6 separate regions of the Homo sapiens genome follow, and regions 2, 3, 4, 5 and 6 are each reported to be linked to region 1. Evidence: microRNA targets listed by miRTarBase, many of them from high-throughput screens and not tested one by one. Region 1 holds a microRNA gene; each other region holds the end of a gene's coding sequence.
Evidence for each region. The annotated mature microRNA hsa-miR-499a-5p reads UUAAGACUUGCAGUGAUGUUU and lies in region 1 at 2,709-2,729, shown strand. An mRNA with a match to its seed (bases 2 to 7 or 8) in the 3' UTR can be bound and repressed. Matches are read on the target gene's strand: a 7mer-m8 pairs with bases 2 to 8, a 7mer-A1 pairs with bases 2 to 7 and ends in A, and an 8mer does both.

Region 2: the mRNA of SLC25A12 is a reported target of hsa-miR-499a-5p. Seed matches in the 3' UTR shown: 7mer-m8 at 3,854-3,860.
Region 3: the mRNA of WASHC2C is a reported target of hsa-miR-499a-5p. Seed matches in the 3' UTR shown: 7mer-A1 at 4,701-4,707 and 7mer-m8 at 4,345-4,351.
Region 4: the mRNA of IQGAP2 is a reported target of hsa-miR-499a-5p. The part of its 3' UTR that is shown has no 7-base or 8-base seed match.
Region 5: the mRNA of FOXO4 is a reported target of hsa-miR-499a-5p. Seed matches in the 3' UTR shown: 7mer-m8 at 3,210-3,216.
Region 6: miRTarBase lists ASAP3 as a target of hsa-miR-499a-5p. Seed matches in the 3' UTR shown: 7mer-A1 at 1,908-1,914.

Annotation. Positions count from the first base shown.
Region 1 is chr20:34,987,700-34,992,922 of GRCh38, forward strand. MIR499A (microRNA 499a) reads left to right here and starts at 2,677; the gene lies at 2,677-2,798. It overlaps MYH7B (myosin heavy chain 7B), which reads left to right. Exons shown (of 45, transcript NM_020884.7): 18 at 66-215; 19 at 393-563; 20 at 2,041-2,220; 21 at 2,315-2,447; 22 at 2,535-2,611; 23 at 3,039-3,126; 24 at 3,305-3,422. MIR499B (microRNA 499b) reads right to left here and starts at 2,773; the gene lies at 2,701-2,773.
Region 2 is chr2:171,781,215-171,786,437 of GRCh38, forward strand. It overlaps SLC25A12 (solute carrier family 25 member 12), which reads right to left. Exons shown (of 18, transcript NM_003705.5): 18 at 2,191-4,261. The coding sequence ends at 4,060. Among named protein-coding and RNA genes, the nearest start is that of DYNC1I2, 96 kb to the left of the region's middle.
Region 3 is chr10:45,792,011-45,797,179 of GRCh38, reverse strand. It overlaps WASHC2C (WASH complex subunit 2C), which reads right to left. Exons shown (of 31, transcript NM_001330074.2): 31 at 4,216-4,919. The coding sequence ends at 4,780. Among named protein-coding and RNA genes, the nearest start is that of AGAP4, 53 kb to the left of the region's middle.
Region 4 is chr5:76,706,512-76,711,734 of GRCh38, reverse strand. IQGAP2 (IQ motif containing GTPase activating protein 2) reads right to left here. Exons shown (of 36, transcript NM_006633.5): 36 at 3,603-4,535. The coding sequence ends at 4,422. Among named protein-coding and RNA genes, the nearest start is that of NCRUPAR, 3.3 kb to the left of the region's middle.
Region 5 is chrX:71,100,460-71,105,682 of GRCh38, reverse strand. It overlaps FOXO4 (forkhead box O4), which reads right to left. Exons shown (of 3, transcript NM_005938.4): 2 at 3,943-4,999; 3 at 2,151-3,606. The coding sequence ends at 3,599. It overlaps CXorf65 (chromosome X open reading frame 65), which reads left to right. Exons shown (of 6, transcript NM_001025265.3): 4 at 846-914; 5 at 1,279-1,385; 6 at 1,571-1,794. The coding sequence ends at 1,696. Among named protein-coding and RNA genes, the nearest start is that of CXorf65, 3.7 kb to the left of the region's middle. RefSeq lists enhancers at 4,315-4,364, 4,651-5,223.
Region 6 is chr1:23,425,997-23,431,219 of GRCh38, reverse strand. It overlaps ASAP3 (ArfGAP with SH3 domain, ankyrin repeat and PH domain 3), which reads left to right. Exons shown (of 25, transcript NM_017707.4): 24 at 95-185; 25 at 1,290-2,657. The coding sequence ends at 1,364. It overlaps LOC124903875 (a long non-coding RNA gene), which reads right to left. Exons shown (of 3, transcript XR_007065535.1): 2 at 4,960-5,042; 3 at 2,237-3,508. Among named protein-coding and RNA genes, the nearest start is that of TCEA3, 3.9 kb to the right of the region's middle.

The DNA.
Region 1 (5,223 bases):
ATGGGGGACAGCCGGGCAGGGTCCCCTCCTTGCCAGGTCCCAGCCCAGCCTCCCTGCACCTCCAGGTGGTGTTTGCTGTGGGGGCTCTGGCCAAGGCCACCTATGACCGGCTGTTCAGGTGGCTGGTGTCTCGGATCAACCAGACCCTGGACACAAAGCTGCCCCGGCAGTTCTTCATCGGGGTTCTGGACATCGCTGGGTTTGAGATCTTTGAGGTGAGGACAGGCCCTCACCTTGGCCTCTGTTCTCTCCAAGGTAGAGGACATGGGCCTGTGGGGGGGCAGAAGCCCTGGCCTTCTGCCTGGAAGTTGGGGGTGAACTCATGCCCCTCCCCGGGCCTCCCTTTCCCCATCTGCGAGAGGTCTGCTGAGCCAGGCCCCTCCCTCTTGTAGTTCAACAGCTTCGAACAGCTGTGCATCAACTTCACCAATGAGAAATTGCAGCAGTTCTTCAACCAGCACATGTTTGTGCTGGAGCAGGAGGAGTACAAGCGGGAGGGCATCGACTGGGTCTTCATCGACTTCGGCCTTGACCTGCAGCCTTGCATCGACCTCATCGAGAAGGTGGGTGCCGCGGCAAGGTCACTTTGAGGAAGGGAGGGTGTGTGTGGTGAGCAAGCAGGGATGGATGACCATGGCTTGCATGGAAGCCTGCAAGTGTGCATGGAAGCGTGTGACTGTGCGTTGCAGTAAGCATGCATGTGAGTGTAGTTGTGACAGCGTTTATGTGCTTGTGTGTGAAAGGGCACGTGTGTGAGTGGGTGTGTTGGAGTTGACCATGAGTGAGCCTTGGTGAGTGTGTGAGCAGTGTGAATGCATGCATCCCAGTACTGTGGACAACAGCTCCTCCTGGGTGCTCAGAATTCTGCAGCTCACAAGGCCCTATTTGCAGCCACAATTTCACTGGATCCCTAGAACTGCCCTGGGTGCAGGGCAGGGTGTGTTTCCTTGTTTTTGTGATTGTGGAACATTATGTATATTTACCCATTGTACAAAGAATGGAAGAAAGAAAATTTGAAAAATTGGCAGGGGAAAAAATGTTTCTCCCCATTCCTATCACAGCCAGTCACATGACACTTAGGTTCATTTCCTCGAAATCCTTTATCCCTTTTTTTTTTTTTTTTTTTTTGAGATGGAGTCTCACTCTGTCGCCCAGGCTGGAGTACAATGGCACCATCTCAGCTCACTGCAACCTTCGCCTCCAGGGTTCAAGCAATTCTTATGCCTCAACCTCCCAAGTAGCTGGGATTACAGGCATGCGCCACCACACCTAGCTAATTTTTGTATTTTTAATAGAGACATGGCTTCACCATTTTGGCCAGGCTGGTCTCGAACTCCTGACCTCAAGTGATCTACCCACCTTGGCCTCCTAAAGTGCTGGGATTACAGGCGTGGGCCACTGCGCCTGGCCTATCCATTTTCTTTTATAGACACAGATTTCATTTCATATCCTACTTTTTCTCTGAAAATGTATTTTGAATGCTGCTCATGGCAAGAGTAGTTCATGCAGTGGATGAGTTTCATACGATGCATTTCTGCAGTCCCCTACAGCTGGGCGTTTAGGTGATTGACAGCTTTTTAAATATTATGTCAGCACTGAAGACATTCATCTTCCCACTCTGCAGGTTAGAAGACTGAGGCTTAGTGATGTCGGAGGGCCCCACAGCTAGTGAGTGAGGAAGCCAAAATGTGAACTTGATGGCTTTTTTTGACTTACCCCATGTTTGTGTGTGACAGCCATGGCTGTGGCGGGGGTGAGAGTGGGTACAGAGATGCCAGCTTGGGTTTGCCATTGTTAGAAGTGAAGATGACACCTCAGTGCTGCAGATTTTGCAGGAGGGGACTGGAGCCAAGCCACAAACTTTTCTCTGTTAGGAGATGGGTTCTTGGAGTGGGTGTGGTGTCTGACCATCCGGGGAGATGGCTGAAGCTGGGGATCTGGGAAGGCTCCCAGAAGGGAGGTGGCCTGGGGAACCAGGGGTTCAGTCCTTCCAGGATGGACTGGCTTGATGGTGGCTTTTCAAGCTCGTTCTGTTCCCAGCCACTGGGCATCCTGTCCATCCTGGAGGAGGAATGCATGTTCCCCAAGGCCTCAGACGCCAGCTTCCGGGCCAAGCTCTACGACAACCACGCGGGGAAGTCACCCAATTTCCAGCAGCCTCGGCCTGACAAGAAGCGCAAGTACCAGGCCCACTTCGAGGTGGTCCACTACGCAGGCGTGGTAGGTGCTTGCTGGAACCCCAGCCCTCGGCCAGGCTCCTCCCGCCCTGCTCCAGGTCTCCCACCCGGGCTCAGCACCTGACTTGTCTCTCCAGGTGCCTTACAGCATTGTGGGCTGGCTGGAGAAAAACAAGGATCCCCTGAATGAGACCGTGGTCCCCATCTTCCAGAAGTCACAGAATAGGCTCCTGGCGACTCTCTATGAGAATTATGCGGGCTCCTGCTCCAGTGAGTATGGAGGGACAAGATCTCCACTCTGACAGGGGCCCACAGAGCGACATTCCCTGGAGTGACCAGGCCCCTTGTCTCTATTAGCTGAGCCCCCCAAGTCTGGGGTGAAAGAGAAGCGTAAGAAGGCAGCATCGTTCCAGACGGTGTCCCAGCTGCACAAGGTAAGGCCCCATCTGGGAGACAGACCCTCCCTCTTGGCAGCCTCCAGCCCCGTCCTTCACCCCCTGCCCTGTCCCCTGTGCCTTGGGCGGGCGGCTGTTAAGACTTGCAGTGATGTTTAACTCCTCTCCACGTGAACATCACAGCAAGTCTGTGCTGCTTCCCGTCCCTACGCTGCCTGGGCAGGGTTTGTGGGGAAGGGGTGGGAGCCCTGGGGCTCTGGGAGGGACGGGGATTTGGCAGGGAAGTGAAGACTTTGGTGGTGGTGATGGGAGACAGCGAAGGGTCTCCCATCACCAGAATGAGAGTGAAAGAGCAAAAGTGCAGGGCACTTAGGGCCCTGCTCCCGTCTCGGTCCTGACCACTGCGGCATCCAATTCTGGTTCTCTGCCCCCTTTGTGCCTTTCCCTCACTCTTCCCCACTGCCAGGAGAACCTCAACAAGCTGATGACCAACCTGCGGGCCACACAGCCCCACTTCGTCCGCTGCATTGTCCCCAACGAGAACAAAACCCCAGGTAGTCACCCAGGGCTGGCCTGGCTGGGGCCGGGAGGCATCATGGGAAGGTGACAGGGCAGAGGCCGGGAGGCTGAGTACATCTTCCCCCTCACCTCGCAGGGTCTCCACTGCTGCTTTTTCTCTGGGGCCTGCGGGTGTGCCTGTTGACCTCTGACCTTTTCCCCTCTCACGTCCAGGGGTCATGGATGCCTTCTTGGTGCTACACCAGCTGCGCTGCAATGGGGTCCTGGAGGGGATCCGGATCTGCCGCCAAGGGTTCCCCAACAGGTTGCTCTACACCGACTTCCGGCAGCGGTGGGTGACCCCTTCCCCCTGCCTGCTGCTCCAGGTGGAGGCCTGAGGGGCTGGGCAGGACACACATATCAGAGCCCAACAGACGGTCCCCTGTCTGGAGGGGGAAGCAGGGACTGTGAGGGGCCTGGCCAGGTATCCCAGCAAGACATGGGGGTGGCTCAGACCTGGCCGGGGACTTGGGGAGAAGTGAATAGGCTTGGGGCAAATAGTGGAGGTGGAGCCTACAGGCCTCGCTGATAAGCTGGACATGGAATTCTGGATGCAGAAAAGACGAATGATTTCTAGTTTTGGGAGTGAGCAACCTGGGAGCTACCAGTGGTAGATTTACTGAGCTACAAAAACAGGGTTTTTTGATTTGGAGGAGAGGTGAAGGGATACTGGTTTGAGCTCTGTTTTGCGTGTATCAGGTTTGAAATGCCTCCAGCAGACATCCTAGAAAAGTCATGGGGGAGATTGGGATTATCAATCTGGAGCTCAGGGCAGCGGGCAGAAAGGATGCAGATTTGGGAGTTGAACGAGAATCATGTGGACGAGGCTTCATGAGACACCTGGCACATAGCAAGCACCTGGGCAGTGCTGCCAGCTCCTCCCCGTTCCCTCAATGGGCAACAAGCATCCATCGTTCCTTCTCCCTCCAGAAGTCATGGTGTCATCCACACTATCCTTTGTAAACAGAGGTTCACACAGATACCATACACGCACACACACGCATGGTGCTGTGACCTTGTTTTTTCTAACAGTCTGGCCTGGAGATCGTTCCTTATCCCCAGGCGTATGCCTGCCATCGTCATCCGTTTTTCTTGGCTGTGAAACATCTCACAGTCTGGTGGACTGCATGCTTTGTTTAATGAGTCCCCCTCATGAGGGGCCTTCACAGCGTGGCTGTAGCCCACCTGACCCACACAGCCCTGTGCATGTGTCCACTTAGAAGTGGGCAGGCTGGGAGCCCTGGCTCTTTTGCATTAGAATTTCCCCCCAAATGGGCTGGGCGCGGTGGCTAACGCCTGTAATCCCAGCACTTTGGGAGGCCGAGGCAGGCGGATCACGAGGTCAGGAGATCGAGACCATCCTGGCTAACACGGTGAAACCCCATCTCTACTAAAAATATAAAAAAATTAGCCGGGCGTGGTGGCGGGAGCCTGTAGTCCCAGCTACTCGGGAGGCTGAGGCAGGAGAATGGCCTGAACCCGGGAGGCAGAGCTTGCAGTGAGCAGAGATCGTGCCACTGCACTCCAGCCTGGGCGACAGAGCGAGACTCCGTCTCAAAAAAAAAAAAAAAAAAGAATTTTCCCCCAAATGTTTCTTCAGTGATAGGGTACAGCATGTCACCTTCTACTAATATTTTTTGCCTTTAAAAAAATTTTAAAAATAGTGCATGCCTTCTGTAAAAAGCCTCTTTAAAAACTTAATGAATGCATTTAAAATCCCCCCAAGGTTGTGTTTTTTTTTTTTTTTTTGAGACGGAGTCTTGCTCTGTCACCCAGGCTGGAGTGCAGTGGCAGGATCTTGGCTCACTGCAACCTCTGCCTTCTGAGGTTCAAGCGATTCTGCAATTCTTCTGCCTCAGCCTCCCGAGTAGCTGGGATTACAGGCGCCCGCCACCATGCCCCACTAATTTTTGTGTTTTTAGTAGAGATAGGGTTTCACCATGTTGCCCACGCTGGTCTTGAACTCCTGGGCTCAAGCAATCCACCCGCCTTGGCTTCCCAAAGTGTTGTGATTATGGGCGTGAGCCACCGCACCCAGCCAACCCCCCAGGGATTTTAAGTGGAGTGTCCCTAGTGTCCCAGTGTGGTGACGC
Region 2 (5,223 bases), not on the chromosome of region 1:
CAGGAGGAAGCAATCAGATAAATAATGTGAGACATTCTGTAAGACAACTGGCTTCCAATGTTATGAAAAAACTGAATTATATTCCCACATACCAGAAATGACATTTCCAAAAAAGATATTTATAATGGCATCCAAATATATGATGTACCTAGGAATATATGTAACAAAAGATTTACAAGACCTTCTTGGTGATTAATAAAATTTTATTAAGACATTAAAAGGACTTAGCAATATATCATGTTCATGGATTGAAAGGCCCACTATGATATAAATTCTCCCAAAATAGCTTATAGATTCATCGCAACTCCAATCAAATTTTCAATGTGTTCGGCTTTTTTTAGTGAAACGTGATAAGCTATTTCTAAAATATATAAAGAAGAGCAGAGAACCAAGAAGAGCCACAAGCTGTTGATGAATAACAAGGATGTGAAAGGACTTTGATATTATATATCAAAAATTTTTTTGAAGATCATGAAGTAATGAAGAGAGTGTACATTAGCACAGGAAAAAAACCAATATAATAAAGAGCCCATAAAAGATCTTTGCATATATTGACAATATACAACAGAAAAGGCACTTCAAAGCAATAGGAAAAGGAAGGTTTTTTGTTTTTGTTTTTTTTCAATAAACAGTGCTGGCACAACAGACTAGCCCTATAGCAGCAAAAAAATTACCTCATACTATATGTTGAAGATTGTTCCAAGTGGGATGAAACCAAAATGTGAGAGGCAAAACTACAAAGCATGTAACAAGAGAATATTAACTATATTTTTAACATAACCATAAAAAAAACCGAGCTAACCATAAAGGAAAACTATTATTTGAAGATATTAAAATTAAAATGTTACTATATTTATAAACATTGTGAAAAGACAAACCACAAAGTGGGAAAAGATTCTGCAACACAACTCATAAAGGAGTAGTAGCCAGAATATATAAAGAACCACCTGCAAATTCATGAGAAAAATGGGAGAACTTTAACACACTTCATTCACCAAAGATGAAATCCAAATGGTCAAAAAATATATGAAATGTGATCAGCCTCATGAACACCTTTCATATTTTTTTTCCATATAAGGAAAATGGTCATTTAAACTACAATATGATACCATTATACATCTACCAGACTGGGGGGCTGGGGAAAAGCCAATACACCCTGGGAAGAATGTAAATCAGTATGAGAATCTTCGGGAAACAGTTGGCATGATCTAGGTTCCACTCTTATGTATATGTCCTTTTAAAGATGCAAACTCCAGAAGACATGTTCAAAATATCCATAGAAGCACTGTTTGAAATATCCCCAAAGTGGAAAAAATCCAAATTGTCCATCAAGAGTAAAATGAAAAAAGTATATGTAATGTAATACATTCATACAATGGAATAAACACACTATGGCTACATACAATGATAAGGATGAATCTCATAATGCTTAGCAAAAGAAACCAGTCTCAAAAGTGTACAGTATAATTTGATTCATATAAATTCCAAAAATAGAAACTAAATATGGTCTTTAGAGACATATACATGGGTGGTAAAACTATGAAGAAAAGCAAAGCAAAGAGTAGGGATGATGTTAAAGTGGACAGAGGGTTGTGTTAGGGAGGGACATATATGGAGCTTTTGAGGTACTGGAGATGTTCTATTTCTTGACCCGGTGGTCATATGGTATGCACATTATGATATGTTAAAAAATATATATGTATGTGTGTACATATCTGTTGTGGACATGCATACATATGTTTCATGTACTTTGTCCATATTCCACAATAAGAAAATATACAAATGACCAGTAAATATGAAAAGACATTCAATCTCACTAGTAATTAGAAAAATAAAATAACCATGATCAGCTATCATGATTTGCTGAAAATGTAAAAGACTGATAATATCCCTCTTTGCTGAGGTTGCAAAGAAATAGGCATTCTCATATGCTGTCAAAGGAAAGTAAATTAATAACTCTTTTTGAAGAACAATGTGGCAATATGTATAAAAACATAAAGCTTGTCTTAAAAGTTTTCAATTGCAATTCCAAATATCTATCCTAATGAAATTCACATGCACTAAAGATATGTGTACAAAGATGTCTGCCATTCACTACAGCATTGTTTGCAGTAGTGAAAAAAATGAATAAATATCAATAAGGGAAGATTTATGAAAAGTATTATAACCCATACAATGAAATACTATGCAGCCATTAAAAATAAAACTTTATAAACTGACATGGAAAGATATCCAAAACACATTAAGTGAACAAAAGCAAGACACAGAATAACACACACATAACATAATCCTGTTTCTAAAATATAAATATGTACATATATTTCTATAGAGTTATGAAAAACAGACTACATATTCATGCTGTAACCTGTTAGCAGTGATTACCTCTGGGCCAGGAAGTGGTGGAGGTAGAAGGAGGGTAAGCGGGACACTTTCCCATCTCACTCTAGATACATACATAGGATTCTTTTGTAATCACATATCCATGGACTACTTATATATTTCTAACAAGTGGTAGTAGCAAAACAACTGTATTATTATTTGTTCCACTCCCATGAGACCAATCTAATACATTTGAAAATAACTTGCTTTCAAAGCTAATTCTTTTGTTCCTGGAGGGCCTCCAGGGAGCCTACAGTTGCAGTCACAGGGCTGTCAGCCATCAATCGAGGAGCACTGTGCAGGATACTAAGTAACTTGGTCTGTCTCCAGGCTCGCCTCTTGAAAATATTTGCATACATTCTCATATCCCAGCTTACTGGCAGTAGCAATAATGTCTTCCCAGAGCACTTTGGTAAGGTAAATAAATTCTGATACTGCACATCAAATCACATCCATATCAAAGTGTAGATGTGGCTGTCAAGATCTATGTTTAGATCCAAATTAGTAATCACGCCCTTGATGAGTGACTTTTAGAACAGTTTGCATTTGGATTCCAAAGTAAGAACCTAGACCCCACTAAATCACCATATAGAGCTTTTCTTCTCTTTCTTCTTCCCTCCCTTCACTCTGCGCTAGCCCTTTCTAAAACTAATTTTTCTGTTTTCTATAAAGGTGGAAGAAAGGGCGAACCCGATCATGAGTTATTTGCAATCAGTAGTCAATCAGAACAAAAAGTATTATCAGTATATTTACAAAGAAAAATCCAACTACATGTATACATTTTGGTGTGCATTTTATTTTTGACTGGAATCATATCCATATGAAGGGAAATTGTGAAAGTATCCTTTACTCTTTTGAAAGCTTGGCCTTTGCCTTACTGTGTCAAAGGAAAGCAAAACTAAGCCAGTAATGATGGAGATGTCCCTGTTTCCATATGCACACTGACAGGCGAGGAGCTGCCTAGGAAATGCTTTTTGATTGATGAACAGAGGAGGGTCTACACACATTAAATACAAATGGAAACACATCAGCACACACAAGTCATTAGCCTGGTCCTCTGGCATCCACTGGCATGCATCTTTCCAAAGTATCACTTATTCAGTGGTAGCAGCACTATGTCTCGTTATGCCTTTTATCAGCAAATACCTTTTTATTCCAGAATGGAAAACAAACTAGGAATTAAATACATCCAATATTGATGCTTTATTTCCATAAGTCACCAATAAGAGAATGAATTTAATTTTAATACATTTATTTTTGTGTGATTCTTAATAAAACACTTTCAAAACATTCTGTACATTTCAAGCCACTCAGAACCGCATTACATTTCTACAAATGTGATTTGTTGGGATGAGGTGCCAAGATGTCTCTGTACAAAGATGTACAATATGTACAATCACTGTAAGTGCAAGCTGTGCAAAGCAGAGTCTAGAACACTAATTCATGCCAAGGCTTACAAAAACATTTCAACACATAAGACTAAAGCTTGAAACAGCGTTGTGGTTTTTTCCCTGGGCAAATGATTATTTTATAAACAAGTATATGTATATGTCATACAGAAAGAAGAGTTTGACTCCTCAGCTCAGTCAGTACCATGCAGCTGACTGGATACATTACAGGGCTGCTCTCCTAGGCCTCTTTCTTCAAGGCGCCATTTTGCCACACTCAACAGTTGTCTCATCACTGAGTGGCTGCCACTGCTGCCTTTGGCTGAACCACAGCAACACTAGGAGACTTAAATTTCGGGAGATAAAGGCCAAATTTGTTTTCGATGCCTGCAAACGTGGCTGTGGCGAGTCTGTATCCACCGATGTGATCAGGGTTGGCAGGAGGAAGGTCTGCAATGCGTGACTTAGGTGTTGGTTCTGAACCAGCGGGTTTGCTGTTGACAGAAAAAAAGCCAATGGTTAGCATGCTCAAGGTGGATGAGCGCAGCTTACAGCTGGACATTTTCGGTCTGACCCATGTGCCACAAAGAAGAATGTTTCTCTCAACCATTTCCATGGCATCTGTGCTGCATGACTAGAAACCACAGTCATGATTTATAGCTGCTTTGACAGCAACTTATCTACATATTTGATTTACAAGAGAAATGGCCTTATTTCCAATGCTTGCATACATATATAAACAAATCCATAGGAAAAAAGTCAGAAGAAAAGACACTCAAATATGAAGACTCTCTGGGTAGTAAGATTATGGATGATTTTTTTCTTTTTTCTTCTTGTAAAGATGGGGTCTTGCTATGTTGCCAAAGCTGGTTTCGAACTTCTGGTCTAAGGAATCCTTCTGCCTTGGCCTCCCAGAGCACTGGGAGGTGTGAGCCACCACACCCAGGCTGGTTTTTTTCTTTTATGCTTTATGGTTTTCCAAATTTTCTGCACTTAGCACATATGAAAGTAATTTTTAAAGTATATATTTTTCTTTTGACATAACTTTAGAAGTTAACTTTTTATGTAGTAGACTCATAAAGATTATCAATTAAATTATTTAAAGAGAGATAGGCCGGGCATGGTGGCTCACGCCTGTAATCCCAGAACTTTGGGAGGCCGAGGCAGGCGGATCATGAGGTCAGGAGATCAAGGCTATCCTGGCTAACACGGTGAGACCCCGTCTCTACTAAAAATATTAAAAAAAAAAAAAATTAGCCAGGCGCGGTGGTGGGCGCCCTTAGTCCCAGCTTCTCAGGAGGCTGAGGCAGGAGAATCACTTGAACCTGGGAGGTGGAGGTTGCAGTGAGCCGAGATCGTACCACTGCACTCCAGCCTGGGCGACAGAGCAAGACTCCGTCTAAAAAAAAAAAAAAAAAAAAAAGAGAGAGAGAGAAATAGCTTTAGTTCTTTTACA
Region 3 (5,169 bases), not on the chromosome of region 1:
TTTAAGAGACAGGGCTTCACTGTGTTAGCCAGGATGGTCTCGATCTCCTGACCTCGTGATCCACCCGCCTCAGCCTCCCAAAGTGCTGGGATTACAGGCATGAGCCACCGCACCCGGTCCCTAACAATTTCATTTTTTACTAAACTGAAGGGAGCACATCTGATCTCTACCACCTAGCACAGTGTTTTGCACATATTGGTACTCATTAAAGCTTTGTTCAAGGAAAGAACAGATATTTTTGTCTTTCAATTGATCCTCAGAATAAACCTGTGCTATAGGTAAGGTATTATCCAAGTTTTAGACATTAATAACTATTTGGTTATCCTGTGTTAGCTGTTTGTGTTGCTATAAAGGAATACCTGACACTGGGCAATTTATAAACAAAAGAGGTTTATTTTGGCTCATGGTTCTGTAGACTGTACAAGGGGTATAATGCTGTTATCTGCTTCCAGTGAGGGCCTCAGGAAGTTTACAATCATGGTAGAGGAGAGGAGCCAGCATGTTACATGGTGAGAGAACAAGAGAGAGAGAGAGGAAGGACGTGTGAGGTTGTTTTTTGTTTGTTTGTTTGTTTTGAGACAGAGTCTTCCTCTTGTCGCCCAGGCTGGAATGCAGTGGCACGATCTCAGCTCACTGCAACCTCTGCCTCCTGGGTTCAAGCAATTCTCTTGCCTCAGCCTCCCGAGTAGCTGGGACTACAGATACGTGCCACCACACCTGGCTAATTTTTGTATTTTTAGTAGAGATGGGGTTTCTAGATGTTGGCCAGGATGGTCTCCATCTCCTGACCTCGTGATCCACCAGCCTCGGCCTCCCGCAGTGCTGAGATTACAGGTGTGAGCCACGGTGCCCGGCCCCCAGGTTCTTTTAAACCAGATCTCATGTGAACTCAGAGTGAGAACTCATTCATTACCACAAGGACAGCACCAAGACATTCATGAGGATCCACCCCCATGATCCAAACACCTCCCACTAGGCCCACCTCCAACACTGGGGGTCACATTTCAACATGAGATTTGGAGGGGACAAAACATCCAAGCCATATCATGCTCCAAAAGTTTGTTTAGAGGGATGTTGGCTTCTCACAGGAATCCCATTCTGATTCACTCCAAATGAAGTCCACCAACGTTTATCCAACTCATAACATACATGCACATACAGGAATCTGCTATAATATGAGTTTTTAATTACACTAATAGGAAAGATCATTAATTCGGGAATCTGCATTGCATTGTACAGACTTCTAGTGATCCTAAAGGGAGGGCATTACAGAAAGGAAAGTTGTTTCTTGTAGTGCAGCTCATTTGAGTGTCGTTGCACCATATTTCAAAATGATGGGTATTAAGAGTAATACAAGGTACCAGGCTAATAATACTGCTGGTGATAGTGGTAAAGGGTCATTGCTCTTAAATAAAAGCTAAATTAAAAAGCTGCATTGCTTATATATGACTTTGTATGGAGCTCTCTAACCTTAACCCCCTTTCTTTCACTCATTCAAACAACTGCTTTTATAATTTTGGATAACATGAATTCTTAAAAACATACTTATGCTATATCAAATAAGACTGTCCTATAGAGTTGCCAGCGTGTGTATCCCCGAAGCCAACAGTACTCGTACCTACACAGGTGCAGCTCTAGCAACAGAAGTCAGGTGTCAGGACTGCAAAATGCACATGACAGAAATAAAGACATGAGTGACTATAACTGCCTAAGGAATATGGATTGTTTCCTTCACCACAGTGTTCTTCCATAGTGAGACCCTGAAAATAATAGGCTGGGGGAGGGTAGAAGATAACAAACAGATTTGGAAGTCCTTCACCTATAATGAGAATGGATAATTCAACTATATGCCAGAAGAAAAAGCATAACCCCGTTCAGCATTAATTGTGCTGGAACTTCCACCGTAAGTCTGGGTCCAGTCAATGGGGTAATTTCCAATATCCCAAAAGAACCAAGGTTGATAACCAAAAGCTAAAATGTTTCCCTCTAGAAGATAGTTATGCTTCTCCTCAGGAGTAGAAATCACTGTAGCAGAGGACAAAATGAGGCCATGAAATCTGGTTAAGCCAGACTGGATGCCTAGAGGGTAGCTGAGGAGCAAATGGAAGCTGCAGCAGGAGAACAAAGACCCAGCCAGTAATAAAAGCTGGGTCCATGAACGGCTTCTTGAAATGGTGTGTGGTCATGCTTAGCTGAGCATACTGTGGGACTCATGATCTTGGAAAATGAGGTGGCAATGAAGACTTAAAGATGGGATGGAAAATGATGCGAGAACAGCTTAAAAAAAAAAAAAGGAAGAAAACAGAAGGGGAAGAGGAAACAAAGAAAACAGAAAGAAGCTGGCCATTGTGGCTCATGCCTGTAATTCCAGCAATTCAGGAGGCCAAGGTGGGAGAATCACTTGAGGTAAGAAGGTTGAGACCAGCCTGGGCAACAGACCCTTGTCTCTACAAAAATTTTTTTTTAAAAATTAGCTGGGCATGATGGCACACACCTGTAGTCCCAGCCATTCAGGAGGCTAAGGTGGGAGGATCACTGGAGCCCTGGAGTTCAAAGGTGCAGCAAGCTATGATTATGCCACTGCACCCCAGCCTAGGCAACACAACCAGACCCTGTCTTTAAAAAAAAAAAAAAAAATGGGAGCAGGTAGAGAAAAAAGTATTTCCATAATTTTTTACAATTAAAAAATATATCTAGCTCTTAAGAGTAATGACACCAAAAAGATTTCTAAATAAATTCCCAAAGCATTTATCTCATCCCTTCTGAAAAAGTTCTAAAAACACAACTCCAAAGATGAAATGGAAGGTAAACAAGGCAATAGCACTGAATACGTAATTTCAGTAACTCAGAATTTGCTCCATCCTCTGCTCTAAAAAAGCTTTGCTACAGAAGAGCAGTTACCTTTAAAACTTTTTCCCCAACATAAAGATATCCAGAATGTGAAGCTACCATTAGAAATGTTGACATAGGCTGGGCGCAGTGGCTCACGCCTGTAATCCCAGCACCTTGGGAGGCCAAGGCGGGCAGATCACAAGATCAGGAGATCAAGACCATCCTGGCTAACATGGTGAAAACCTGTCTCTACTAAAAATACAAAAAATTAGCCGGGCGTGCTGGTGGGCGCCTGTAGTCCCAGCTACTCGGGAGGCTGAGGCAGGAGAATGGCATGAACCCAGGAGGCGGTGGTTGCAGTGAGCCGGGATCACGCCACCGCACTCCAGCCTGGGTGACAGAGCGAGACTCCGTCTCAAAAAAAAAAAAAAAATGTTGACATAGATCTTCATTTACTGATATGTGAAAACATCCCTAAAGTTCTAAATACGAGCTACAGAATCACATCAACCATCTAATATGTCTGTAACCTAAACGCTAGTCGGCAGTTGATCCGCAAGCGGGATTAGGAAATATTTCAGAGCCAGCATCTCCTCGCACCATCCAGGTACCTATACACTTGAGGCCACCAAGTCACCTGCGCAGCCCTTGCTCCTCCAAGACCAACCAGGGCTCCCCAGACCCACAGGCCTGAATCTGGAGGACAGCAGTCTGCCTGACAACAGCGACTCGGAGATCTCAACCTAAGGACAGAAGGAAGATGCATAAAATGAATAGGGGAAAGGAGTGGCCAACTAGCAAGTGCCCTTATCTGTTATCACGTCACTCTCACAGCAGACTTGGGCAAATGGTTGACCTGTGGAAGCCGTACAAAATGTTTGACTCTGGGTATGAGTAATTCCCCTTCCGATCTTACAGTGCCCAAGGAAGAAGTAAGTAGCTCCACGATCGCTGAGACCAACCTGGGCGGCCTACAAGACTGTGCTGTGGTGACAGGCTGCATAGTCAGCAGCAAGACGACAGAGCACCAAAAAACACAGATTAGAATGGGGTCAGCCATCCAGGTGGCTAGTGGCTACTGCCTTTGTCGATACAGATAAAGAACATTTTCATTCCTGTGGAGTTCTATGGGGCAGTGCTGCTCTAGAGGCTGACATTTCCATCTTCAGCACTTCCCCCGGCTATTACCTAGGTTCATTCTGCTGCTTCCACAAGACAAGGATGGAAAAGGATGCCTTAGAGCAATGGTCAGCAAACTGTATATAAAGGGGCAGATAGAAAACATCTGAGGCTCTGTGAGCCATCCAGTCTCTGTCATAATCACTCAACTCTTACATTGGAGGTAGGGTGAGAGCAGCAATAGACAGTAAGTAAACAAATGAATGTGATTGTGTTCCAATAAAATTTTATTAACAAAATATGACAGTGGGGGGGCCACAGTTTGCCAAACTTTGCCTTGGAGGACATGCAGAGGCACCCTCAGAATTCAGTGAAAACCTGCTCCCATATTGCTAAGACTCATGAAGTATAATCTCTCATCTTCTTTCTCTTTCCCCTGCCCAAGCCCTAAGTTAGGGTTCCCATCCATATAACAAAGACTTCTGGTCAGGTGGCATTTGCTATCTCTGAGATTCCCTGCCCATGAAAGCCACAAAGAGATTTCTTCTTTTACACACCCTGAAGCATATTATGGCCCCAGCAAGGCTAACTAAATCAAACTGTGGTTTAAAAACAAAACAAACCAACCACTGTGAAATATTTATTTTTGTTTTGTAGTATTAAGCATGATTAAACCAGTGCAGAAAAATACTAAGTACATTGGGTAAAAGATGAGCTAGCTGTTCTAGTATTTGCTTTTTGTAATCCAGTTAAGACCATGAGCATATACAATATCATCACTAACTCAACAATGTAGCTGCAGGGTAACATGTGGATACCCTGTGTGCTCTACTGGCCTCCAAAGGCATTCAGGGGATCATCAAAGATGTTGGACACCTTGTGTTCAAATCTTGGTTCAGGTGCGGCCTGTGCAGATCGGCTTTTTGGTTTGGTTGTCTTAGCCTGGATACCAGTGGAGAAGATGTCATCTTTAGAAAGAAAAAAGAAAAACAGTTGCTGAAGAGGGGTGGAGAAAGGTACTTTTAAGACACATGCAAGCAAACCACCAAAGACCCAGCTCTCGTAACAGCATGGAGTACCCTAAAACACTAACCTAGAACTCAAGCCTCTTAGATTCTGGTTCTGTGTTTGTTACTCATTAAATTTTATGATCACACACAGGTTTCTCTTGGAGCACAATTTCTTCAGCTACAAAAGTGTATGTATGTGCGTGTGCAG
Region 4 (5,223 bases), not on the chromosome of region 1:
CAAAGGGATGGCTCTTGCTAGTTATCTGCAGCAGGAACATGTCCAGGCACAGATCACTCATGCTACTGTTTGTGGTTTAAGAATGCCTTAAGCGGTTTTCTGCCCTGGGTGGGCCAGGTGTTCCTTGCGCTCATTCCAGTAAACCCACAGCCTTCCAGCGTGAGCGTCATGGCCATCACGAACATGTCACAGTGCTGCAGAGATTTTGTTTATGGCCAGTTTTTGGGCCAGTTTATGGCCAGATTTGGCGCCCTGTTCCTAAAACCCGACCTCAGGTGATCTGCCCGCCTTGGCCTCCCAAAGTGCTGGGATTACAGGCGTGAGCCACCGTACCCGGCCTCTTAAGAGCTTTTTGAAGAAGATAACCCACTACTTCATTTGTTCCACGCCACTCCTACCAAAACCCCTTTGTCAGTTTTAAAGCAAACATCTGTAGGTTTCTGAGAGTAGAAAATCTACTTAACCAGAGATGATAAACATGTTGAAAATCTGCCTAACCAGAGTTGCTAAAAATATTTCTTGGAAATGAAATCTTGACTTTGCAGCATCATTCATATTGGAACCACTTGATATTAGTTTCCGGTTTTCATTTTCTCTGTTTTAACTTGCCTGGTACCAAATAGTATGAGTCATTAGCCATCCTCCCATAATGTTTATGGTATTTAGTAGTGTTTTCAAACAAATGTGGCATCAACGTGGTAAACATTTTAATAACTAGATGATACGAAAGCAGTTTCATGTAAGCCATCAGATGATCTACCTGCTTCAGGTATTCTGGTTACCACTCTTCTATTTGAAGTGTTCCAAAGACAATAGTATATTCTAAGAACTTGCATAGTAATTTCCTTTTGGAAGCTAAATGATGGGGATACCAGAGCTCATATGAAAGTATTCAAAGTAGGTTGAGGCACTACCAGATTCTGTGTATATATTGCCACATTTTTTTTAAAGCAAACAGAAGGTTTGTAATCAGGTTACAAGCCAACCAACAGATGACCTGTTTCTGTCTTTCGCTGTTATAAACCCGTACTGTCAGCTTAGATTTGGAAGTTTATCTCTCATAATGGATCAACAACTATATTTCTACCATCGATAGAATGGTAGGCTATCCCTATGACTTAGGGTGCTAAACAAAGGTCAAATTCAGTATCTATTAAAAGACGACAAAAACCAAAAACTTTCATTCCAGTTAAGTAAGGTGAACACATTATCTCCTAGTTCTCCCTCTTCATTGATTTCCCTTTCAATATATTTTAGCTAAAAGATTTTATACTCTAAGGAAAACAGTGAGGCAACATAGTAAATCTGTATAAGATATTTTATTTGGAGATTGAGTTGAGAGGCTATTCATTTTTAGGCTGAGATAATAAGTAAAAGCCCCATTCATCCAAGTGCCAACCTGAAGTAATAGTGGACTCCTGAGGGGCAGTGGGGGTGGTAGGGTCTGTCTGCTTTTCATTCCATTGCTAGAACCCCTGTCTGCACCTGCCATTTATTTACAAAGCATTGCCAGGCTCCGGATTTAGAGTGACTGAAACACAGATTCTGTCCTCTGGAGCTTAGGGGGCCTCTGTTGTAACCTGTTACCAAGTTTGGTTTTAGTAACATTGGCAATAGATTTTTCAAAAAGCTAACCAGCAATAAGAACATCCAGTGCTCACTATAATTTTTCAAAATAAAGACAACTTTCACCATTCAGAGTTTTGTGGTTTGCCTCTTGGAATGTTTGAGGAATACCACAAATCCCTACTTAATGACAAAGTCATAAAAATCACATCATGAATAGCATTTCTAATTTGTGCCCAACCACACACAAACACTAACGTATAATTATAGTTGAGATCATTCATATCAGACAACGGTCACACCAAGCTGGTCTTTCTTCACCACTAACTTTCAGAATAAAGCATACACATATTTTCCTTCTCCTGAAGACCACTAAAGCATATCCTTTGAGAGCACCTATAGTGTTGCATAAGTACTTTTTGCTTTTAAGATCAAAATAATCAAAATAATCAAAATACAGGAGTCAGTTTTGCAAAAATAAGTTATAGTTCCAATTGCTCAGTGTTTAAAAGCAAAAAAGCAAGCAAACAAAAAACCCAAACAACAAAAAACCTTTTCCATTGAGTAAGAAAAATCTATGGGCTCTGGGAGGAAGTTGGAGTCCTTAGTGGCTCAGGCTCAGGGTTATCAAGAATTGTCCTCTGGCTTGAGGGACAGTTTAGTCCTCTTAAAGAGTAGCACAGGACTTGGCTCCAACAAATCTCTGTAAACTGAAGTCTGCTACACCCAGGCCCCGATGGCCCTTGGTTTTGTTCCTTCATCATGAGCCTTCTTCTCAGGTCACCCATTCATACCGCTTAAAGATCTCACACAAATAGCAATTGGTGATGTCTTCAACAATAACCTCATCTTGTGGGCCAACAGAGAAATCATTCACAGCGTTCCTTGAAGGTATTGACATGATGCAAATATCTTTATTCGTACAAATAACATTCAAGCATATCATTCAGTGTTGCAATAAGTTAAGATAAGCTCCTTTCAGAGATGCTGGGAAAGGCTGGCTTTTGCCTCCAAAACATTGCTCCCTAATTTTGGCTCCTTCTATACATTTCCACTAAAAGCCTTGCCCGGAGCAAGAAGGAAGCTTACCCTGCCCACCCCTCATTGCCCCTGGCTCCTGTTCCCCTTTCCAATGCTAGCAGTAGGGCAAGAGGGAGGTTTATTTTCAACGTGAAACTTAACTGTATATTTAATTCCTTCTACCAAAGCCTGCATTAAGGCTAATGCATTACAAAACATACATACCCGCAAACTGTTGAGATAGTGAGCATTGTTTTAAGCTATTCATCTCTTTGTCAAAAAAATATACATAGCCTGAAACCATCACTAAAGTAGCAGATTTTACTTTTTTTAATTTGAATTTTCCAAATTCTGTTGGTCTTACCCTTCAAGTTTATTTGTGCCACATGTACATAAACTAACCTACTTTCTCAATATTTTGCAATTTGTGAAAAAATAAAGCCTGTTGCAGGCATGAACAAAGTGGCAGGGAGGTTCCAGCCTGAGAGTCTGGAATCCTTTTGTGGTGAAGACTCCTAAACTGTCAGCAGGAATCACACTCCTTTTCTTCCTTTTAATAACAGACCCAATTCCCTCTCTACCTCTCTGTATTCACTGGCTACATGGCTGCCTAGTTAGGGACTATCTTTAGCTAGCTGTGTCCACATGACTCAGTTTTGGCCAATACAATGTAAGTGGAAGTTAAAGTGATGCGTATAACTGAAAAGGCTTGCCCTGGACTTCTTCGTCATCCTCTTCCTCATCTGGCTGGGGGGAATCAGTACAAGGACAGAGCCAACTGACCCACCTGGAAACTCTTTACCTTGTGGATCTGCTCACCGTTGAGCTGAATTTGAGAAAAACAAACTTCTACCCCTTGTTTTAGACACCAGGGTTTTGTATCTTTTCCTTACAGCAGCTTGCTCTCTACTTTAACCAGTACAGCAAGAAATGTATTCTCTCCTAACAAACCCGACCAAGAATCTTCCCCTACCCACTAAATGACTTTGATTTATTAAGACAACTTAAAAGCCAAATTAATGGAATTAAGTAACATTTATTTTACATAAAACAATTTCCAGAGAATACATTTAAAAACCATCTAGATACTGATTTTTTAGCATTACAAAAAATTGAGAGGCACAATTGAAGTATTCAAATAAATTGTGAGGGGTGGAGGTGGGGACTATGCTCACTATCTATGTTGTTCCTTAGTCACTTAAAGGCTCTGCGTGCAAGAGTCTTTACATGAGGCAGTAGTGCACTTTCATTTAGTAGGAATAAATCACATAAAATATATACTTTTATACAGAAAGTGTTATTGTGTTGTCATTTTCAATTACTTATAAAAACTTCATTTGAATTGCACAAAAGTTCTCTTTAAAATTGATAACTCCCAGAAGACAGGGCTTAGAACTGTCTAAATAATTCATTACAAATAATTAGGTTTCCATTTATCCATAGATTAAAAAAACTATGAAGAATTACGTTATTCAAGTGGGACATTTAAAATTTTTTTCATAGGAAAATAGGTTTACATGTTTGTCCCTAGTCAGCTAAATTTCCCACCCCCCAACTTTAAAACAGATCACAGGATGTCCAAAGTTTTAAATCAGAGTACCTATATCACAGTACAGTGTGGATATGTTTCCATTAATTCATTTTATGTCTCATTCTATTATAGTATCAAATTAGCAAAAAGGCACCTGGGTACATTCTTCAGAACAGTTTTGGTCGTTTTAAAAAAATCACACATTTATAAGCAGTGATTTCAATCATGTTTAAAAACAAAAATATTAAACAAATTCATTTCCTAATCCAGATGATACAGAATCCAAGAAATTTCTGTAGGCACTTCACTTTCCATAGAACTTCTTGTTCAGCAGGTATATGAGAAGGTTTACATTCACTTTAACCTTATCAAACATTTTCATTACAGCTACTCCTTCATATTGCATCTGAAGTAAATCCTGAAATTGTAAAAAGCATCATTAAATCTCAACTTTGACATTTTGTGCATTTAAAAAACATATTAGAAGAATTTGTTGACAAAAGTCAGATTCAATTGACCTAATCACCTGGGTGGGGTCTAACTATGTTGCCCAGGTTGGTCTCAAACTCCTGGCTTAAGCTATCTTCCCACCTCAGCCTCCCGAGTAGCCAGGACTACAGGCGCATGCCATGGCACCAGGCCATAGATGGGGGTTCTAAAACTTAAGTGTACATCAGAATCATCTGGTTAAAAACATAGGCTAGTTAAAATAAAGGCTGCCTGGGCTCCTCCCACAGGAATTTCTTGTTATGTAGCTCTCTGGTGGGGCCCATCAATTTGCATTTTAATAAATTCCCAAGTGATTGTGACTTAGATGAAAGAAAATAGCTTTTTGGAATTGATAAGGGCTGTATGAAAGTAAATGATGATCATTAAGTTAATGTCAGATATATAATTTCAATTTTTAATCGAAAATGTTAAAACACAAAGTTCTGGCTAGATGCATATTCTTTAGAAAGCAGTGTTTTCTGGCTGGGTGTGGTGGCTCATTCCTGTAATACCAGCAGTTTGAGAGGCTGAGGCAGGTGGATCACTTGAGGTCAGGAGAGTGAGACCAGCCTGGCCAACATGGCGAAACCCCATCTCTACTAAAAATACAAAAATTA
Region 5 (5,223 bases), not on the chromosome of region 1:
GGAAGGGTACTGCCTCTATAATAATAGGTTACCTCACACATACTCTCCCCTAGGTCCATACCTAAGGGGAAGAAATATCCACCAGCTCAAGGTAGGTTTTTTTTTTTTTTTTTTTGGGACAGAGTTTCGCTCTTGTTGTCCAGTTGTCCAGGCTGGAGTGCAATGGCGCGATCTCAGCTCACTGCAACCTCTGCCTCCCAGGTTCAAGCGATTCTCCTGTCTTAGCCTCCTGAGTAGCTGGGACTACAGGCACCCGCCACCAGGCCCAACTAATTTTTTAGTGCAGATGGGGTTTCACCATGTTGGCCAAGCTGGTCTTGAACTCCTGACCTCAGGTGATCCACCCACCTCAGCCTCCCAAAGTGCTGGGATTACAGGCGTGAGCCACTGTGCCCGGCAAGGTAGTCTTTATTTTTATTTATTTATTTATTTTATTTTTTGTGATGGAGTCTTGCTCTGTCACCCAGGCTGAAACAGTGGCATGATCTTGGCTCACTGCAACCTCTGCCTCCTGGGTTCAAGTGATTCTCCTGCCTCAGCCTCCGGAGTAGCTGGGATTACAGGCGCCCACCACCATGCCCAGCTAATTTTTTTTGTTTGTTTGTATTTTTGGTAGAGATGGGGTTTCACCAAATTGGCCAGGCTAGTCTCGAATTGGCCAGGCTAGTCTGGAACTCCTGACCTCAAGTGATCCGCCCACCTTGGCCTCCCAAAATGCTGGGATTACAGGCGTGAGCCACCGCATCTGGCGGGTAGTCTTTAGTGTTAGGTCCTGGAATCTTGGACTTCTGAAGGGTGGAGACTGGATGACAGGGGCTGGAGATAGCACATGGCTATGTTCACAGGAACCAGGCTGGAGAATGCTTACAGAGCTTTTGTGCCTCTCCTCAAGAATCCGGAGCCTTGGCTGCTTGGTAAGAAGTGAGATGGGGGAGGGAAGAACATGAAGGGTACAGTATATAGCTGTGTGATGGAGAATGTAGGGTGGGACTAGCGTGATATGGTAGGTCAGATGATAGGAGCCTAGGAAAAGGCGGGCAGGGTCCAGGTCCACTTTAGGAGGGACGTTTAGCTCACACCAGGTGGAATGTGCATGCGTTACTCCCCACTTCCCCCATTTCTTGGCCATCTTCTCCGTATATCTCCCTGTCACCATTCCATCATTTCCATCTTAGGCCAAGTGGGGCTCCAGCTGATGGTTTGAACAATGAATGGGAGCATCAGGAAGGGTAAGGTCTCTAGTTCTCAGAGGTGCAGGTGCCTTTTCCTTGTTCTTAGTTGCACTGCGCATACAATGTGATGCCCTGGAGAGGAGACGAATTCAGATGCTTAAAATGAAAGAAGCCAAGAAGGTCGTTATAATTGAACCCCCTGCGAGTGTCCCGGTAAGACTTGCCAAATGTGATCTGCCCCAGCACCCCCCTCTCCCTACCAGCCGACTGAATGTTCCTACACCCCAGCCCTCTGAGATGAATTTCCTGCCTCCAATTTCTTTTTTCCTTCCTTTGGCCCTGGGTTGTAGAAACCTTCCCTGCAGGGGCCTCTTTGTTTACTTACTTTCTTTTTCTAGTCCAAGCAATCAGGACGATCAGACAAAAAGAAGTCCACTCGCAAGTCTCCGACCTTTAGGAACAGACCAGACTTCAGGAAGAATAAAGGTCGCCAACTCAATAAAACCACCAAGCAAAAGAAGTAATACTAGGTGTGAAATTACTGGAATTTAACGTGAGATTTCTTTTTCTAGAAAGACTCCTTCTCCCAATATCTGCACTAAGGCTTGAGTACATACGCCCCAGGCACCTAGGAGGCTCTGAGGGTGGATGGGAGCGGCAGGAGAGGGCTGGGGCAAGCACATGGGTGGGGGTGAGGAAGGCTGTGAAGTCTAGTACAATGAGCCTTTGAGGAACGGAGTAGGGGGTGGGGTCTTCTCAAACCAGACTACCTCCCCTTGGGAGGCCTATCTCACAGCCCGCCTACTCCTGCAGGGGTTAGGTGTCCCTCCACCCCCACACTCCACCACCTCCCCGGGGTGAAATTCCCCCACCCTCCTCCATGTCTCTGCCTTTGGGCAGTTTCTTCCTCCCGCCCTTTGCCTTTTCCCCTCCCTCCCCCTTATCCAAGGGGAGAAGCAAGGCAGCAGAAACCAGAGCTGGTTATAGGCATTTATTGAATTTATTCATTTATTGATTTGACACACTTCCCCACTCCAATCTAGCACATGATACAATCTGGGTAGGCCAGGCGCTGACACAGGAAATGATGGGAACCCACAGCAGGGGTGGGGGAGGGGACGATGCAAAGGGCACTGGGGGAAGGGCTGCTTTGGGGGCTGGGGTGGAGAAGGAGCCCCAGATGGCCTCCCTGGCAGGTGCTAGTAAACCTGATCCACATCCCCCCCCATCCCTGCTCATTTCCCAGACCCTCAGCCAAGCTCCCCAGCTCCCCCTTCCCTGTTCCTCCCCTCCCCGCTGCCTGCTGCCACACACACTTCCACATAACCCCTGCAGTCAGGGAAGGGGAAGAAGGGCAGGGACAGCTGTCAGGGGCCTTGAACAGGGAGGTCTCTGTACCTAACTTTACCATCCTAAATCCTTCCCTCCTTCTCTTCTCTCCCCTCCCAGTCCCTTCCCTGGCCCCAAGCTAATTCCAGGCCTTCAATGTACTCTCCCACCATAGCACTAACCCATGCTGGGTCATAGAAGAGTGTGGCTGCACCCTAACACCACACACTCCCAGGCACAAGTTGAAGGAATGAGGGGACCTGGGTTAGCTTTTTTGTTAGGGAAACTCTAACCTATTTCTGCATAGACCTTTCTCTATACCTGGTCCGTAGGGGAGCTCTTCCCTGTGTTTACTATTACTCCCCACCTCTCCCCACTTCCCTGTGTCTCCTAATATTTATTGTCTGTAGTGTTTGTATCATGTCACTATCACAAAGCCTTCAGAAAGAAAAAAAAGCATTCTGCCCACCACTAGCACCCTGCCATGGTTAAAAAATCTCTATATTTGTGTTTATATTTCTTTAAAAGTTTATAAAAAGCCTTTCTGTTATCTGCAGCCTTCTAAGGGTGATTTGGCCTGGCGAGCCACTCCAGTGCTCAGACCTTGGCCCTTCCAGATCCCCTAAACAGCCCACCCACCGCACATCACTGGCCTAAGGGGCCACTGCATAGAAATCCCAGGCTCCAGCTAGCCTGGCTCAGCTCAGATAAGACTCTCTACAAAAAAATCCTGCTCCCAAAGGCAGGGGTAAGGCCACTGGTGACTTCACATTTCCAACAGCATTGCTCATCTTGCTACAAAGCCTAAGTGGGTAGGAATGGGGAAAGCCGATGATGGCTCCTGAGAGGGGGCCTTACCCCCTAATTGGCACAGTGAGAAAAACCCTCTCCCCTTTCCCCTCCCATCTCCCTCCCCATATCGTCCCCAGATGGGGCAGCTTTATCTTTATAATTTCTTCAACACCTGTGTGTGACCAGACCCCACCCTAGCTCTAAAGCAGGGTCCCAAATTCCTGGGGAGGGCTCAAGGGTAAAGAGTAGATATGAACACGCCTGGCTCCACATCTGAAGCAGGGGACAAAGCTTCCAGGCATGACTCAGGGATCTGTGGGAAGAAGAAACAGAGAACAAGGTAAGAGGCTTACCTGGGGCTTGCCAACATTCTATCATCCAGATTCCCACCAAAGAAGATGGTGGCACCTAACCCGCTTCCATACACATACCTTTTCTGTGCTACCTTGCAGGGCTGGGCACAGCTAAGGGGCCTGGAGGTCCCATCCGGAAACTATGCTACTGTAATATGACATCTTCCCTCCAGTTCCCCAGGAGCTCTGGCTACCACTTGTCCTAAATCTCCCCTTCGCCCAGATCATGGGACTAGCTGGGCACCTAGGAGTGGTAATAGGCTATGAGGTGCTGTGGTGATTAGGGGGTACTGTACCTGGCTCAAAGTTGAAGTCCAGTCCCTCGCCCTCATCCATGAGGTCACTGATGATGTTATCCATGTCACACTCCAGGTTCTCCATATACATATCAAGATCTAGATCCTGAGGCATTCTGTCTTGGCTTGCAGCTTCAGTAGGGGGTGTGAGCACAGGAGTCCCCAGAGCCTTGGGGATGGGGGCACTTGCCATGACTGGAGGTGGTGCTATCATAGAAAGGGTGGGAACCAGACTGCTGGGGCCTGGAGCCTCTAGGGGCTTGGGACACAGGCCGACGCCCGTGGCCAGCTTACTGGAGGAAGGAAGCCCCCCCAGCAACAGAAGAGTCGGAGCCTGGGACAGAATGGGATCTACCTGGGTCATGAGGACGTCAGCAGGGGGTGGTGGCGTATCAGAGGTGAGCAGGGCCTCCAGAGCCTGGGAGCTGGAGAAGCACCCTTCTCCTGCTGACAGGGGCCCCTCTGCTGGGCTGAAAAGGGAGCTGCTGTAGGTGTGTAAGGGGCCGGTAACCCCAGGATGCTGCAAAGAGAAGCCAGAGAGACCACTCCGAGATAGCAGGGAATGGGAAGAGGTGAGATTGAGCCCATCTAACAGCTCTAGACCTTCATTGAGGGTGGGAGGGACACCCCCTGCATAACTGCTGACTGAAGCTGGTATTTCCTCCGCCAGCACCTCAGACTCTGGCCTCAAGGGGGACAGCCGGGTGCTGACACTGCTGGCATTTGAACTGCTTCGTGGACGGAAGGTGGTCCACATATCGGCTTCTTCACGGTTTCGAGAGCAAGGGCTGCCTGACCACTTGGCAAAGTGGCCGACAGGGCTCGTTGGAGTGGCACCTTCGGGTGGAGCTGGCAGCACAGATGGTTTCTTCTTGGGGGCTTTACTGCGGCCCCGGAGCAGCTTGCTGCTGCTATCCATGGAGGCGGCCCGGCGGCGGGGGGCTTTGCCGCTCTTGCCTCCCTCAGGGTTCAGCATCCACCAAGAGCTTTTGCCGGTGGCCTCGTTGTGAACCTTGATGAACTTGCTGTGCAGGGACAGGTTGTGGCGGATCGAGTTCTGGAGGGGCAGAGATGGCAGGAAAGGGGCGTGAGGTACTGTAGGGGAGGTCAGTGGCCAGCGGTCAAGTCTAAGAGGATGCTGGACCCTGATGATCTAGGGTTTAGGATTTGGTGCCACCACCGCAGCAGGGTTCATTTCGGGGCTTCATTTCCCAGGTCATTAAAGTTTAAGAAAAACTTTAAATAATTTACAAAAAAAGAGAAAAAGATAAAAGATAAAAG
Region 6 (5,223 bases), not on the chromosome of region 1:
AGCCCCCAGACTGGCTCTGTTCCTGAGCCCTTTCTCCCCACTCTGAGGGGCTCTCTGGACATGAGGGTCATGTTGGCCTTTCCCTGCCTTCCAGCTCCGAGAGCACTCGCTCCTATCGGCGGGGGGCGCGGAGCCCTGAAGATGGTCCCTCAGCCAGGCAGCCTCTGCCCAGAAGGAACGTGCCGGTAGGAACTCTGGGACCATGGTTTGAGGGGCGGTGGCAGGGTGCCTGGGAGGCAGAGTTAGTCAAGAGTAGGCGTATTGGGGTGGGAGACCTCCCCATGGTTGGGGTACAGATGGGCCCAGGCAGCCACAGTTTGGACAGTCCCTGTCCTGGTGCCCAGGTGGGCACGGTTTGGCCAGTCCCTGTCCTGGTGCCCAGGTGGCCACGGTTTGGCCAGTCCCTGTCCTGGTGCCCAGGTGGCTGCAGTTTGGCCAGTCCCTGTCCTGGTGCTCCTCTTTCCATGCTCCAGCCCAGGGCTGGGTGAAGCTGAGGAGAGCCCAGGCCTTGAGGGATGGCAGTGATCATGAGGCCCAAGCTCTGGCTTCTCCCCAGGGGAGGATGAGGAAAGTTGTGTTAGCCAGGCCAGTCGCTCAGAGAAGGCATCACTTCCCTGCAGAAGAGGCAGGATTAGGTGGCCGTGTACCAGCCCTTGTTTGCCTAACTCTCCCCTTGTTCATGAGTCTCCTGGAATCCACAGGGACTTTCAGATCCCAGGCATAGAGGGATGTGACAGGGACAGGGCAAGAGCTGTCATCCTTAATCCAGCTTCTCCCTGCTGAATCACCAAGTCTCCAACAATGGCATATATTAGTTGAACCTAGGAGTGGGCACAGATCAGAGCCAGTTGTGTTGGGAAAGAAGCCTCTTCTGTCCCTTGTTCCTCTGGGAATTCCTCAGAATGGCATTGGTTGTGTTGGGAGTCAGGATGGCAGGGGCAAAAGCTGGTTCTGTCTGGGGAATCGTCATCTTTAGTCCACCAGAGTTAGTCAGCAGACACAAATCTATGTCCATATTCTGGTTCCACTATTGCCCTGAAAACCAAGTATCCATCAGATGGCATTTAATTGATGCCTGTGATTGTGGTGTGTATGATAGCAAGAGCTTGGGCTTTAGAGTAAGGAGACTTTGGATAAGTGGCTTCACTTCCTCAAGCCTCAGTTTCTTTGTCTGTAAAATGAGAATAATTTAATTTATCTACAATAGGACAGATGTGAAACTGAGTGAGATGAACACCTGGTATGTTACAGGTGCTTTGAAAATGTCAGTTTCATCCTTCTTTCTGCAGGTTGGCATCACTGAAGGAGATGGCTCAAGGACTGGGAGTCTCCCAGCAAGTTCTGTGCAACTTTTGCAAGACTAGCTCCTTGCTGGCCCCCACATGCCCCATGCTAGGCCCCAATGTTCAGAGCTGGGACTTGAGCTCACAAAACTGGGGAGCTGAGACATTTGTTCTCTTGGATCTCACTCTCTCTGTCCCTTGTGCCTCTGTAGCTGGCCTTCTTCCTGCCACAGGCCATGCCTCTACCAAGGACACATGGCCTTTCCCTGTTAGGACTGATGGCGGTTCTTTCCTATCTCATTACCCGCTAGGGGCCTGGGAGCCCTGTGGCTGGATCTGAGTGCTCCTGAGCTGGCTTCAGCTGCAGAACTCTCAGTCCCTCATCAGATCGAGACTCTATTTCCCCCGTCAGTCTGGGGGCTTCACAAGGGCAGGAGAGCCCTCCATCACTGACTTCCAGATCAGGGACCCTGCCAAGTAGGGACTGTCTTCTCAGCCAGCCATTTATTAGTCTAATATTCCTTCACTAAATTCCAACTCTATGTCTGGACCTGTGTTAGGCACTTCAGATACCACACGAGTAAGACAAGGGCCCTGCAGGGGTGGTCCTTTGGTGGAAAGCTGGTCTTAAGGGTTGGGCTTGGGAATAGGCAGGGTCAGATTCCAGGGCATGGCTCTGGACTCAGCTGGTTTATACCTATATGACCATTACAATTGTCTACAGATCACATCCATTCTGGCTGGTCAACATGCATGCTGTACTGGCTGTTAAATAAAAATATTCTGAATGTCACTCCTTTTGAGGGACAGCACAGCCTTCCCTAGGCATTCTCCTATATTCCCCAGCCAAATTGTAGAGTCAGATGCACCCACATTTGCCTGTGTCCTTGATTTAGCAGGAAGGAAAGGAATAGTCAGGGTTGATGGATGCCCACTTCTCTTCTCTTTCTCTTGGTCAACTCAGGAGCCTTTTAGTCTGAGGGAATGGAGAGGCAAAGAAAGAAGGGAGAGTAATAGAATTGGGAGGGCAGAGACTTAAGGGTTCTGCTTCCCAGCCCTAGAAATTCTATCATTGCTCAGCCCCAATGAGAAAGCAGATACACCTAAGCCATCATCAACCACTAACATCTCAACTTGCCAGTTGCTGGGTGCTGGGCCCTGGCAGGAATGGGCCAAGCCAAGCAGGGGAGACTAGAGAGCACCAATGGCCAACACAGCTGCCTGGCTGGGGAGGCTGTGCTGTTTCCCCTGGAGACCTGACTGGTCTGTGGTTCCCACAGGAACAGGGTTGTCTTTTGAGCCCCCAGTGTCTGGTTTCATTCATCTCAGACTTGTTATTTCACTCATCTCTAATAAAGGATTGGGGGGTCAGTTTCCAGTGGTTTCATTTATGTGATCTAAAGAGCAACAGGGAGGGGAAAGGAATCTTGGGGCTTGAAATTCTTTCTCTGGACCTGGCAAGGGAGATGGCCTGATGTGGAATAGTGGTTTGCAACCACAGTGTTTTGCCCCGGGGAACTTCTGATAAAGCAGAAAACAGTTTTGACTGTTCCCAACTGGAGGATGCTAGTGGCATTTAGTGGACAAAGGTCAGGGATGCTACTAAACATCCTACGGTGCATAGGTCAACCCTCCCTAGCAATGCATTATCCAGTCCAAAATGTTAATAGTGCCAAGGTTGAGAAACCCTGGAAAGAGCACTGGACTAGGAGTCTGGAGACCTGAAATTCTAGCTCTCCCATGGTCCTCTGCCACTGTCTCTGTTGACTGCCCCTGAGACAAGGATTTGGGAGCAAGTAGCTTATCTGTGAAATGATCCCAGGAAGCATAATGAGGGAATAGAGAAATGAAACAGAAAGTCAAAGATAAAGAGCTGTGCGTGTTGGTGAGAACCTATACTCCAGCTACTCGGGTGGGAGAATTGCTTGAGCCCAGGAGTTCAAGGCTGCAGTGAGCCATGATGGCGCCACTGCACTCCAGCCTGAACAACAGAGCGAGACTCTGTCTCTAACTCTTGTTGGGGACCTGTGAGAAGGAGTATTGACTAGAACATGCCTTCAGGTTGTCCCATCGAGAGTGAAGAAATGATGTTTTCCACCAACTCTGGTTTCTTGCTGGTTGGGGGTGTCCTTTCTGAGGGCATCAATTTCCTACCACCCCAAAGCTCCAAATAGAGAAATGTGGGGAGCTGTCCAAGGTGTGTCCAGGAATTATCTTCCAGTGACCTGTAGGGTGGACAGGTAGGCAGAGGGGATATGATGGTATCAACAGGGTCCAACCCTGAGAGAATCATCACCCTCTTTAGGCCTCGGTCTTCCCATCTATACAATAAAGAGGTTGGACTCCATGTTTTCTTAGGGGCCTTCATACCCTGACATTCTAGGAGTCTTAACTTTTTTTTGATGTCGCGCATCTCAGGGTGGTGACTGGGTGGAAGTTTGAGAAAAATCTCTCTCTCTCTCTTTTTTTTTTTTTTTTGATGGCTCTGTCTCCCATACTGGAGTACAGTGGCACAATCAGAGCTCACTGTAACCTTGAACTCCTGGGCTCAGGCAAGCCTCCTGCCTCAGCCTTCCGAGTAGCTGGGACTATAGGCCCACGCCACCATGCCCAGCTTTTTAAAATATTTTGTAGAGACGAGGTCTCTCTCTGTTGCCCAGGCTAGTCTTGAACTCCTGGCTTCAAGCAATCCTCCTGCTTTGGCCTCCCAAAGTGCTAGGATTACAGGCATGAGCCACTGCTCCTGGCCTTTTTTTTAATAAGGCAATCCTAAGTAGCCTCAGGCTGCTGAGGTTGAGTCTCTTCAACCCAGAAGGGCTTGGCTGGGATTGGCCAAAAGGCCTCCCAGAGAATCCCAAACCATTAGAGTCTAACTTCCCAAATGTGACCGGCAGGCACTGCATGCTCAGGTCCCACCCACTGCCTCTCCCCACACTCCTCACCTCTGTGCTGCAGCCACGCCAATTTTTCAGTTCCTCCAACACTGTCAGGCAGGCCAGGCACCCTCCCATCCCTAAGCTTTGCACATTTGGAACTCCAAGAGGGGAGGACTGTTTTGTTCCTCTCTGGATGTCCAGAACAAGAACTACCTGGCACATATTAGGTGCTCCATAAATATATGTTGAATGCCTCTTCCTTTCTTCCGTGAACACTCTTCCTCCTCCCCTCAACGGCCACTGTGTACTTCAGCCCAAAGTTTAAACTTCGTTTCTTCAGAGAAGTTGACACCCTAAATAGTGCAGGTCCCCTCAAATGTGTCCTTAAGCTATCCTCCACTGCTTCCTGCCCTTCACCCCAGCTATGATAAATGCATTAATTGACTATGTCTGTTTTTGTTTAAGGTTTCTCTTGCCCATAGACTGAGTCTCAAGCTTTCTGGGACTGGGTCTGTCTTGTTCATTGCTTGGACACTCAATACGTATTTGTTGAATGGATGAAAAAAACCCACTCTGTCCTACCTTGATCCCCGTCACATAGCAATTAGAAGATAGGTGTCCACACCAAGCTGCCTCTGCGACCCAAGCTGAAATGCGGTTCTCTCAGGAAAATCAGGAGATTTCACTCGACACCCCAACCCCAGCTCCCACACACTGTGGACCACTTTTCATGCCTTCCCTCCAGGTTCCTGAGCCCCACCCCCATCACAGGAAGATCATTTTCTGTCCATTAAACTCACTTATTTAGCAAGAGAACTGGGTCTGCAGGAGATACTTGAAGATCATTGGAGATCATTCCACAGGAAGGCAGATCCCTGCATGGCTGGGGAAGATAGGCACAATTGTGTTTCCACCCCTCCACTAAGATGACTTCCAAACCCAACCCCACTGAGGGGATACTGGCCTGACCTGGCAGCCTTGCACCTGGATCAATATTTCTCAAAATTTGGTGCACTTAAGAATGAATCTCGGCGGGGTGCGGTGGCTCACGCCTGTAATCCCAG